3 separate regions of the Homo sapiens genome follow, and all the other regions are linked to region 1. Evidence: fine-mapped expression QTL. A gene starts in region 1. Each other region holds a variant in brackets. All regions are shown on one strand. Distances are from middle to middle.

What was found. PIP is the estimated chance that this variant, and not a neighbour inherited with it, causes the effect. A credible set is the group of variants that fine-mapping cannot tell apart.
Region 2: its variant is the best candidate, but not a certain one, in a credible set for the expression of MYOZ2 in gastroesophageal junction (GTEx, PIP 0.77).
Region 3: its variant is the best candidate, but not a certain one, in a credible set for the expression of MYOZ2 in transverse colon (GTEx, PIP 0.64).

Annotation. Positions count from the first base shown.
Region 1 is chr4:119,133,369-119,137,611 of GRCh38, reverse strand. MYOZ2 (myozenin 2) reads right to left here and starts at 1,780. Exons shown (of 6, transcript NM_016599.5): 1 at 1,630-1,780; 2 at 1,011-1,100. The coding sequence starts at 1,086. It overlaps LOC102723967 (a long non-coding RNA gene), which reads right to left. Exons shown (of 3, transcript XR_001741422.1): 3 at 4,058-4,243.
Region 2 is chr4:119,029,885-119,034,127 of GRCh38, reverse strand. SYNPO2 (synaptopodin 2) reads right to left here. Exons shown (of 5, transcript NM_133477.3): 4 at 2,101-4,243. Among named protein-coding and RNA genes, the nearest start is that of SYNPO2-AS1, 47 kb to the right of the region's middle. RefSeq lists an enhancer at 1,957-2,456. The variant G/A (reference allele first, on the strand shown) is at 2,328.
Region 3 is chr4:119,049,340-119,053,582 of GRCh38, reverse strand. The region is part of intron 4 of SYNPO2 (synaptopodin 2); the gene reads right to left. Among named protein-coding and RNA genes, the nearest start is that of SYNPO2-AS1, 67 kb to the right of the region's middle. The variant T/C (reference allele first, on the strand shown) is at 2,251.

The DNA.
Region 1 (4,243 bases):
GCGTGGGGAGCATCTAAAAGTCTTTGATTCTGTTCCTCTTGCTTTATGGAAGGTGTAATATGAAAACATTATGCTCAATACTCTTCCCGGGTCTCAAGCTTCTAGGTCTCAATATTGTAGTGGTGAAAGGCTGCATTCCTTGTCAATACAGGGGAAATAAGGAGGCATTCTGAAAATGCCACTAATATATCTGGAATGGCTCAAATCAGCTCCTAAGAGGACCTGAATATTTTTCTTAACATTTAAAACTGATGCTATACGTTGCTTATAAACAAAGTTGAATTTCCTTTATAAGAATCAAAATGCAAGTTATAAAGCATTGCTTTCTCAAGTTAGTTGCTAGAATTTAAAGAAAAGGAGAGAGTGAAATATTACCTTGCACGTAATATATATTAAAATTTTTTTGAGTCATATGCTTTGAGACTACAATAACTTTATATTTTCTCAGAAGTTACAAATAAAAGTAGACTTTGCACACAAAATATGTTAGTAAATCAATTAACAAATATGAAGGGTTAAATAAATAAGCAATAGAAATGGAGTTAAATAATAAGCAATAAATATGAATTCCAACTTAATAGCTTGATAAAAAAGATGATAGAACTTATTTTGAGTGATTTATATAATGTAAGGTAAAAGAAATCAAGCTAAACCATGTGGGATGGACAATAAAGACAAGATTGTATGAGACTTGTCCAGAAAAAAAAAAGAATCGAGAGTGATCTTAACTTATAATGTGGAAGGCAAGCCAAGCAGAATGTACATCAGCTGTCAGATTGCTTCATGCCTTTTACAGCAGTTGTTCCTCTGAAAATAGCTTCCAAATGAGAAAGGATGACTACAAAAGGATTAGTTACCATAGGCTTTTCTACACCCCCTAGAGCTCCAGGTTTGTTATGACAGAACAGCAAGAATCTAAAGGAAGTAAACTATGGAATATTAAACAACGTCAGGATGGAGCCACATTCATGCTGTGCTATATTAATGCTACGAAGGATTTTTATTGATACCATTTCCATGGACTTCCTTCATGATGGCTGTTGCTTGCTGTTTTCTCTGCTTCATCATAGTATTATGTGATAGCATGGTTTTTTTGTTCCCTGTTAAAAACAAAGGGACATTATTGAGGCAATGTGAAGAACTCATTTGGAGTGTCTTATAATCACTGTTTTGAAAGACAACATCTTTGTTCTTTATTAAAAAGTTATTATCGCTTGCTACTGAAAGACTTCAATACGCATTCCTTATCTGGTGACAGAGTATGTTATTCATTGACAGGCAATGTCACAGTGAACAGAGACCCAGTCTGGACATTAATACAATGATCATCAGGCAGTGAGAAACAATGAAATTGCTGGTCTCCTTTCCCCTCCCTCTCTTTTCTCCACAGTATTTTAGTCTGTCATTGTCTCCTCACTGGCCTTCATTTGTACCAGCATCACACTCCATCAATTCCAGCAAACTGTAAGAATGAAGAAGACACTAGACTAAACCAGAATTCTTTGGTGGTAGCATTTTAATATTGGCAACAGCTGCCCTTTAAAGCAGAGAATGCCCATTTATGAGTCACAACTCTGAATATCCTTGGACAACTGACTAATGAAACATTTTAGGAAACAACATACTCACCTTGCTGTTAGATTGTGCTTTTTCAGCGGGGATGAATCCCAGTTTGTGGAGGAAGACTCTGGAGATGGACTATGGATGGCACTTGGGCCTGATGGTTTTTATCCTTGAACCTGGGACAGCATGGTCCCTACTCTGACTCAAACTGGGGACTGAGCTTTTCTGAAGAGACTGGCATTCAGCTGACATCAACTGGCTATATATAGCACCAAATACTTTAGCTACTCATATCTTCCTGGCGAAAGGGAGGAACAGGGAAAGATTAGGCTCTCTCCATTGTGTTTCTAGTTTGTGAGATGGTTAAATGAAACGTTCATTGGACATGCAGAAAGTTTTTAGTGAGCACTTTCTGTTGAACAGATAGTAGCCAAAAGGGATTTTAAACACTTTTAAACATCTAGCTCTTATGTTACATGTTAATTGAGGTGGCAAGAGACACATGCATGAATCAGAACAGAATGATAGATTTTTCATAATTAAAATGAACAATATAGGCAGTAATATCTATGTAGACTCAAGAAGAAAGGAAGTAATGTGGGGTGGATCAATAGAGCCAGTTCTTAAGCTGTAGTGAGAACTCATGCTAGGTTGAGAAAAGTATGTAGTATTTGAATAGTGAACTCAGGAAGCATTTTGAAATGAACCATTAGAGGATAAGCCATGAAGCTGGGTAAAAGCTGAGACTCATAACTGGGTCATGCTTTTTGAAGGGCCTACAGAGACCAGTCCCTGCAAAGTTGACCAGTCTTTACAATGTCTAGGGTCAAGGATTTTCATTTGCAGGCCTGACAAGATTTGAAAGGTTTGCCTGTCAAAAGGTTTGGCCTCCTTGATGGTCCCTGGACACAAAAACGTGCTCTCATCTCTGGGCTTTTCCTTTTACTGTTTCCCCCTTTCCTTTTACTATTTCCCCCTTTCCCTGGTTGAAATGGTGTCCTCAACAGATAATCATTATGTTAATTTTGGTTTCCAAAATGAAAATAGATACTGTATTCCTTTTACTATTTCCCCCTTCCATACTTTCCCTCTACTCACATGGCACAGTCATGCATTCAGGACTCTGCTCAGATAACAATCCCTCATAAAATCCTTCCCTTATCACCTTGTCTAAAATATCACACTGTGCCACTCTCTAGTCCCTTACTCTGCTTCATTTTCTTTATATTTTTCTATTAGTTAAGATAAAAGTCAAATGGGAGTGACAGAAACCCCCCCAAAACAGAACTGTAAAAAGATGGAAGATGTTTCTCTCACAGGTAAGCTTAGTCTAGAAGTAAGTAATTGAGGGTTTGCATGACTGACATAATTATCAAGGGCTCAGTTACCCTCTAACTTTTTGCTCCACTATCCCTAAAATGCAGACCCCTTGGGCCTAATTGGCTGCCCCAGCTCCAGTCAGCATGCATATATTTCAACCAGCAGGAAAAAGAAAAAAAAATGAGAAGGGAACACTGTCTTCTTTTCAGAACATGTCTGATATTTTGTTCATACTTCTGTTTACATCCCATTGGGCAGAACTTAGCCATATAGCCGTACATAACTCAAGAAAGGTTGGGAAGTGTAGCTTCTATTCTAGGTGGTCATGAGCCCAATTAAAATTCATACATAACTTACTAACAAAGAAATAATTGTTGCTGAGTGACAACTCAGTTTTTTCACTAAGAACATGCCAACATTATTCTATCTATCTATCTATCTATCTATCTATCTATCTATCTATCTATCTATCTATCTAGCAAAAGTTTATGTTATGTACAATTCTAAAGGTTGAAATGGCGTCCTCAACAGTTTTACTAGCACCTGTAATCCCAGCTACTCTGAAGGCTGGGGTGGGAAGATTGCTTGAGTCCAGGAGGTAGAGGTTGCATCTATTTATGTGATATCTCTTTTTTCTACTAAACTATGAATCCTATAATGGCTTGGGCTTTGTATCTTCAGCAGTTGGAATTGTATCTGGCATATGGTAAGCACTCAATATTCATTGAATGAATGAATAAATGAGTAGGTTGGAGATTAACTGCAGAATGCATTAAAGGTTTGGCATGAGTTTGGAATTCAAATGAACAGTCGCTTGAATGTACAAAGGTGGTGGCTATTTGTGGGAGGAATTGTATTTTATAAGATTGAAATCGGTTATACATTTTGGTGCCTGATCATAGGATTGAAAGTTTAAGGTTGTAAATCACAGCACTTTGGGAGGCCAAGGTGGGTGGATCGCTTGAGCCCAGGAGTTTGAGACCAGCCTAGGCCAGCTAGCAAAACTCTGCCTCTACCAAAAAAGCAAAAACAAAAACAAAAAACCCAAAAATTAGCCAGGTGAGTGGCATGCACCTATAATCTCAGCTACTCCAAAGGCTGGGGTGGGAAGATTGCTTGAGTCCAGGAGGTAGAGTTTGCAGTAATCCATGATCAAGCCACCGCACTCCAGCCCGGGCAAGACCAGACCTTGTTTAAAAAAAAAAAAAAAGAGAAAGCTAAAGGTTGTAGATAGCAGGTTTAAGCTAATCTAGCTAACCTATTGCAATTGTTTCTAAACAAACCATTTGCATTGAAAGTATAATTAGGTATCAAATGAGAAACAATTTTGCCAAAGCAAATAAATTTAAATTCCCTCTCA
Region 2 (4,243 bases), 100 kb after region 1:
AGGGAACAAGTAATACAAACAACTGTGTTATATAATGAATAGATTGCTTTTTTCCTTTATCCTGTATTAATCTTAATTGGTTTCCCAAAAAGGCAAATAAGAGACCAAGCTACATCCTGTGGTTGTAACCTCTAGGTAAATTTCCACCAAAAGCAATGAAAGATTTTCCAGAGAAAAAGCAGAAGAATCAGCCCCATTGTTCTGCAGCTGACTTAATTCTCCTCTTTATGTTTTAGAAATACCTAAGGATTACAGTTTTACAATGTATGGAGAAATAGATATGCTAACAACAATGAAATTGTTGTGGGAGCCATATAGAGAAATATCAGAGAAATTATTTAGATCAGAATAGCTCATACAAGGAAGATTTTTTTAAAATATGGACATTGAACAGATAAAGGAGACAGTAATATTTTAATAGGATAGTGAAAAATATAGCAGATTGACAGTGACAGCAGAAAAAGAGCAGGAATACAGATATTTTCAGAAGATTAAAATGGTACTGTGTACCCTCAAACCAGGCAAGTTTTTCTGAGAGGTCTCTAAACATATCTCCTGCATAGAGTAGATGATTTTTCTTGGAGCTGTCATAAATGCTTTATAGTTCTCTACATTAATTCATGTCGAATATTTTCCATGGTTGGTCAGACTCAGACTTAAAATAGATCTGAGAAAGGTCTTCAGGTTTACTTTCAGTACCATTATTCACTTCATAGCCAGCTGGGTGACAACATGGTGTGTGGCCAATTAAAGTTTACAAGGTAACCTTGCCTGAATTATCCTGGTCCATCGAATACAAATAGTAAAGTGAAGGTGAGAGAATAGAATTGCAAGGAACGTGGGAGAAGCAGTTGTCAAAAAGCAAAGCAAACACAAGAAAAAAAATCTGTGAGATCACTCAGAAATGATGCTAATAATTGTGTGCTCTCACCCTACAGTCTCCACACACATGGGGTTCCTCGTGCTTCACAATCAGCCCCTGTAGTCAGTCAGTAAACCTTCAGGTCCCAATCATGTGGTTTCTCCAGGTGAAACAATAGCCATGTACACCTTTATGTGCGTCCTGCCTTTTACATGTTACTTCGTTATCCTGTATACTCTACCACTTGCCTCAGCTGAGGAAAACAAACTTATGCTTTCATGGGCAACTGGAGATGTACTCACTTAGTTCCTTAAGTAACTGGGGAGGGAGGGTGGGAATCAACCTTTAAAGATAATTATCCTTCTTTCCTTATCCCATTTACTTCATTATTACTATTATTATTATTATTATTGAGACAGGGTCTCACTATGTTGCTCAGGCTGGTCTCCAACTCCCGGCCTCAAGCAGTCCTCCTACCTCAGCCTCCCAAAGTGCTAGGATTCCAGGCATGAACCACCATACCCGGCCCCATTTACTTTAAATAAGTTTTCTGAAATGAGTTTATATATGTAAAAACATCTGGCAAAGAACCTAATACATAATAAGTGCTCAGTAATTAAGACCCTCTTTCTTACCCACTTCTTACTAAACTATATACATTCCAACAATCCTCCGAGTATCTTCTCTGTGATATCAAACAGGTGGCTGAGATTGACAGACCAGAGCTGCTCCCTGTCCTTCATAGATTCCTTATTCCTTTAACACTAGTAATAGAGATAAGGCACTACCTAAAAGGGAAATCTCAGTCAATATAGGTTATACCTTCACTACATTTGAACCTTTCACCATAGGAGGACAGCTGTTATGTTACATAAAGGCTGATTCCTGATGTTTGATATCACTGATCACTGTCTTTCTTGTGGCTACAGCACAAATCCTAAGTCTCCTGCTTACTTAATATAACGGTACATGTCTATTTTGGGGTGCTCCTGGATTTTTTAAGTGTGCAAAGAAGATAAATATATTTTAGGTCAATCTGAGTTGGATTTTTGACTCATTAAAAATATTATACTCCTTGGACCCAGATTAGGAGGTGACATATCTGAAATTAAGTAAGTTGAGGACTTTGCTAGGCATTCTCAGGGACTCAAGAAACACTGCAAACAATTCATTTCAAGCAAAGTGGACACTCAGCTTCAGCTACAAGATTACTCTTCCACAACAGATGGTTTCCACACCTGAATTGTGACACCACTTTTCTTGGCTGAGAACTTTGGCCTTGGTGCCACAAAATAAGATGATGAGGCTGATTCTTGCTTTGGCGAGGTGGGAATGCCCACAGGCACTGGGGATGCACTGACTGGTGAGGAGGCCTCTGCAAAGAAGGAAGGAGGAGAGGTATAGGCTGGTACCGAGTACACTGACGAAGCCTGCACATTCGTAGGTGAGGCAGCATTCACTGGCC[G/A]GGGAGGAAGAGCTTGCTTCATGGCCAGGGCTGAATTGACCTTGACTGATGACTTCTGGGGGAGGCCATCCTTTGCATCTGGAGGTTGGAAAGTAAACAAGGATGCATTGAGCTGATACGGTTGGTGCTTCATGACATCTAATGCATTGAGGGGTTTCTTTCCCTTTTTCTTGCCCATTTTGGAGGGCTGTGCAGCTGATGGCTGAGACTTGAGAGCAGCCAGTGGGTAAGACGGCGAGTGGATAGGATTATAGGCCACAGGAGGAGGTGCTCGGACATTGGAGGAGTACTTCCAACTGGCCGGGAGAGATGGAGTGGGAGACTGAGCTCGAGCAGCGTGGGCCTGCACCGTGTCTGAATCGACCACATACTTCTCCATTCTCGACTGCCTTTTAGCAAAGAGCTGAGCTCCTCTCCCACTCATTCCTGGAAGCTCATTGGATGGTCCCACTGCACCAGGCTGAACAGCATTGACTGTTGGTGTGGAAACTGTTGGTTTGGGTGTGTAATTCTGACTGGCTACTGCTGCTTGTGGTCCTTTGAAGGGACCAGCCACGTTCAAAGTACTTGCAGGCCGGGCAGGAGGGTAAGAAGGCTGGGCTATTTTGATGGAGGAGACAACGGTGCCCTTTGATGGGTTGGATGTGGGGAAGGCAGGAGGTTGGGTGGGAGCCACTCCTGGAGACCAGACTGGGGAAACTGGAGTTACTGGTTGGGAGGATGAGGACTTGACTGCAGGTTTTGGAGCAACAGGAGGAGGGGTCTTTTGTTTGGCAGAGGAGCTTTGCATGAAATTACAAGCCTCTGCCCCCAAGCTGAGGTAGTCTTCTTCCGGTCCGGAATCACCTCCAGCTCCAGTGCCCCGTTTGCCTTCTGAATTTTGAAGGAGTGACAAGAGTTCAGGATTTGGGCTTACTTTGGGCTCTTTAAAAGTAAACATGGGTTTTGTCGTGCTTCTCCTTTTGGCCTCCTGCAATATTCCTGTTCTTTTTGCTGGCACTGAGATCCTCTCATCTCGGGAAGCTATTCGCTCAGACGAATCGTAAAAGGCTGGCTGGGACCACGGGGCAGGCTGGGGCCATGGAGGGGGCTGTGCTGGGCCAGCAATCGGACTTGAAACCCCTCTGGAGAAGGCGTCAGGGGGAGGAGTGACTGCAGAGTAAGGTGGAGGTGCAGGAAAGTCAGCAATGGGACTCGTCATGTTTCGGGTTGGCGAGAAGGGGGTAGCTGGCTGATTCACAGACCCTGGGAAGGGTTTGGCCGTTCTATTCATGGGGACCATCCTCTGGATGTTTGCTGTCTCAGATGTCCCACTGAAGCCATTCTGTTGGGGAACATGGCCAAGACCATGACTCACCTCGATGTAGCTTTTGCTCACAGAGCTCTGCGTTCTTACCGACTCTTCCTCCTTTCTTTGGTAAGAAGTCGTGGTTCTCAGGCCATCGGTCTGGGCAGCATCTTGTTCTCTGCTTGGCGTTCCACCTACCTTGTCCTCTTCTTTTTGGGCTGTGATCTGATCCATTCTCTCCCTCCTCTTGGCAAACATGAGGGCTCCCTTGCCTGTGGTGTCTGGTAACATCTCCATCTTGTCCCCTCTGTTCAGTTTCTTTTCAATGTCCACCAGTCCAGAATCCCAGTCAAAGTTCACAACTTGTGTGTTGTCGTCAACGTCAGACAATAACTCTTCATCCACCTCTGATTCGCTTGCACCAAGAAATGCTACTTCACATGTATCCTCCTTGTCACCTTCTTCCTCCTCGTCCGCCTCTCGCTCAAGCTCGCCAGTACCGTAGCTAACTAGGGTGTATTTCCTGGCCCTCCGACGTCGCTTCTTAAACATCAACACCCCCTTGGAGTTGGGGTTGGGAGCATCCGTTAGAAGAAGGGCAATGCTTTTGCATTTAGATTTTGCTTCC
Region 3 (4,243 bases), 84 kb after region 1:
TTTCTGAAGGGAAATTAAAACCTAGGATTGAAGCTGAAAGCAAAAATCTCACGCCAAACATGCATATGACAAATGTAACAGCAGTGAGGAAAGAAGAGCAACCAGCTCAATGAGCAAAATGACCATGGCTCTTCTACATTTCCCCAGACTGACGAACATGCCTTCACATTCTTTCAAGTGCTAGTAATAGAGGATAAGATGATAAACCATTTTAGGTTAGAGATCCAACTGGGATATAAATAAATCATTCCATAGGTACAATGTAGTTTCTGTTTGTGTCCAAAATATTGCAAGCCTCTAGCCTCTACTGGCACCCATACTTCTAATTTTAATGTATTTCCCCAAAGCAATTTTCACAGTGTTTTTTGGTGCTGTTTCCTTCTGTCCATCACAGTTTCAAGGCTCAGGCTGTTCTCTGTTTGGCTGGCTGAATGAAGCCATGTGATATACCCTGAGCCAGAAACGACCAAAGGAACCTGAAAGTAACAGAGGTGTTTCTTTTGTTTTGGAGTTTGAATGTCTGACGCTGGAATCCTAGCATAGCATGGATTAGGTCCTGGGTTGTCACTTCCACCATGGGTTATATCATCATCAAGGGAATTTAATATTTTTATATGAGAGCACTTAACTGTAACCAAGATGTTAAATTAGCTTTACCCATCAAATTGCTTCTTTCTGTCTCCCACTACCTTTTAAACTTTATTTAATAAAAAAAAGTTTTCTGCTGCCACTGGAAGAAAACTTAGCAGATCCTGGGACATTTTGCTTACTTTTAGGAAGAGTTCAATGGTTACCTTAAGTTACTCAAACCAGTTTTATTTTGAAATAGATGATGCCATCCCCTGAAATAACAAACTCCAATTTCAACTTTATTAGAGTTAAATCTCCTCTCCTTCCCCAGCTGGGGCCTGCTTCAGAAAGGCTGCCTTCCTTCAGGGAAGGAGTGTGGTTGACTTCTTCACTCTACTTCCACTTCTTCTCTCAGGTCGCTAACTCTGCCTTCTGGCCCCCTGGGGTTGGAGGAAAAAAAGGAGTAGAATAAAAGAGGAGAAGAAAGTTTTTACTTGATTTGGCAACATCATGTTCTGGCCTCTTACTCTTGGGGCCAGACAGGCCCAGAGAGGGACATTTTTATGGGATATTGAAAGATTCCCATCACTGGGGACATCTTACCTCTAGTCCTTGATTCATGCTAATTCTTCTCTGTTCTAGGGAGTGACTTTGGACTCATCCTATATGCTCCCTTAGGAAGCTGTCTACCTACAGTGTGTAGCTACTAGGATCCATCTGCCCCCTCAGAGAGGCCCCAGGTTGACCCCAGCCAGCTCTCCCTTGCTCCTAGCCTGGACTGGCCTGGTCCATGGGGAACACTCACATCATTTGCCTGTGGGGATGCAGAAGAAAATGTCCTGGTTCTGTGCCAGAACAGTTTGTCAGCCTGTCCCTTTCCCTCCAAATTTCCTGAGTGGCACTCAGACCCCACTCTGACCTCCTACCCATCCTCATGCAAGTATCTCCCATGAAGTTCTCTAAGAAGACACTTTGAAACTCTTCTTGCACACAGCTTGAGGTAAAAAGGTGAAACCCCCTCCACGCCACCCACTCCAAACACACACATCTTCAGCACTCTGGAATTCCTTCTCACAGAATCCTCTCTCCTTGCCATAATCAACCCCTTTTAATCACTTGGACCTGGCTGAAGGTTTCAAGAATTGTGGAAGTCATTTGCTACTATATTCTTTGTAGAGTCTGCATTTGAATCTGGAATCTCACTTCAGTGGGCAGCATCTGTTGTATCTGGGGGCCTTGGGTAAAACTTCAACATCCTGTCATCTCATTTTCAGTACAGTACAAAGCTCCCTCTCTCCTATTTTTCTTTTTAAAGTAAAATATAAGCTAAAATTGGAAATATTTTTCTACAAATCAATTCCAAGAAATTTCTCTAATAACTTCGAATAAAGTTGAAAGCTTATACCTCACTGAGTCTTCTCTCTAGAGAAGAGGGGTTACTTGTTTCCAGAGCATCTTGGTCAATCCTTAGGCTCTAGATTTTGGGAACTTCTTTCTTACATTGAATCAAACATTGCTTCCCGGCCGGGCGCGGTGGCTCACGCCTGTAATCCCAGCACTTTGGGAGGCCGAGGCGGGCGGATCACGAGGTCAGGAGATCGAGACCATCCCGGCTAAAAAACGGTGAAACCCCGTCTCTACTAAAAATACAAAAAATTAGCCGGGCGTAGTGGCGGGCGC[T/C]TGTAGTCCCAGCTACTCGGGAGGCTGAGGCAGGAGAATGGCGTGAACCCGGGAGGCGGAGCTTGCAGTGAGCCGAGATCCCGCCACTGCACTCCAGCCTGGGCGACAGAGCGAGACTCCGTCTCAAAAAAAAAAAAAAAAAAAAATTGCTTCCCATGGCTTTACCCCAGTGATTCTGCTAACATGGATTACATCTACTTGTACTTCTATGCAGCCATTCCTTCATACATTCCCAGTTTCTTCCACCCTCCTTGAATATCTTTACTATCCTGTTGCTATCTGTTATTTTTCAAACTAAGGAGAAATAATATCTATGTCATTCACTCCCTCAAGTTCTCCACATCCTTCTCCCTCCAGTTTGTTGGGCAAGGCTAATGCAGGTATAATATCTTGATCTTCTTAAGTAGATGTGTGTACATAAACACAAGGCCACGTGCTGAGTGAAGACATCATTCAAAATGACTGCGGGACCATGTCATCTGGCAGATGGTATAGTTAATACTGCATATGGAACATTCAGTCTGTGTGCATTTAGAGTATTCTGTTCTTTGATTATTCAACCCACGAGAGCACACGCCAATCTTTAGCTGGCCCAATATAATGCATGCAAGACTCCCACTGAACTCATGAGTCATCTGGTGTTATATAGTCCCACAAAAGGGCTTAACACTAAGGAGGCATTTTTCTACCTCTGCCTTTAAAAATAGCCAACATTAATAGATTGCTTATTGTATGCCAGGCAGTGGGGGCTGATTTCTTTATGTGGAGTGTTTCACGTAATCGTCACAACCCCGTGAAGTAGAGGCACTATTATTATCCCTATTTTTCCAGAGGATAGTGAGATTTGAAGAAAGTAAGTAATTTCCCCAAGGGTAGAAAGCTAGTAAGTGTTGGGGTGGAAAATTGAACCCAGGCAGGCAGTCTCATACCAGAGTTCCTAAATCTAATTGGACTATACTTGCAATGATATTGTTTTGAGAGAATATCTTTTTTTTTTTTTGAGACAGAATCTCGCTCTTGTCACCCAGGTTGGAGTACAGTGGGGCGATCCTGGCTCACTGCAACCTCTGCCTCCCGGGTTGAAGTGATTCTCCTGCCTCAGCCTCCTGAGTAGCTGGCATTACAGGTGCCTACCACTATGGTTGGCTAATTTTTGTACTTTTAGTAGAGATGGAGTTTTGCCATGTTGGCCAGGCTGGCCTTGAACTCCTGACCTCAGGTGATCTGCCTGCCTCAACCTCCTAAAGTGCTGGGATTACATGTGTGAGCCACTGCACCCAGCCTGAGAACATCTTTTTTTTAAAAAAAAGATTCAAAACCATGCAAACTAAATGGAGTAAGATCTTAGAAATTTTGGAAAAGGTCATTTAAATTTGGATTAAATTTGGATTAAAGAATACTGGCATCTTGGCATTTGTCACAAGAACAGGCAGGTGACCGGGCCGTAGGGAATACAGTGCATCGCATTTAGATGCACTTCTGCTGCATGAAGATGAGATATCCGGGGCTCTGCATGCAGGAGAAAAGCTCAGAGGAGCTGAGGGCCTTTCTCAGCTTAACATAAACCATCTTCTCATGTCAATTAAATGTTGGTTTATCCACACAGCTTGTTAATAAAACAGCTTAGTTAGCTTCCTTGTTAAACTGTCTAGCTGTCTAGTAACCAATTTAACTGGCAGGGAACACTTGACATGCAAAAAGAAAGTGTAATCTGAGGTTTACTTAGCACAAAGAAGTGAATTTTAAAGCAATGTAAACTGTCCTAGAAGCCAAAGAAGATAAATCTGATGTATGTGTCGTGAGTCAAAGTTTAAACTATTTTATACCATAAACCTTGAAAGTGATACAATTCTCTTGGCTGAAACCCTGCTTACACATGCACTGTAGGGAAAGGGGCGTCAACTGATAAATATGATTTCAATTCCTTTGACTCTTTTCTCTCTTAAACACATGATCAGTAAATGATCATCACAAACATATACTTTATCATACA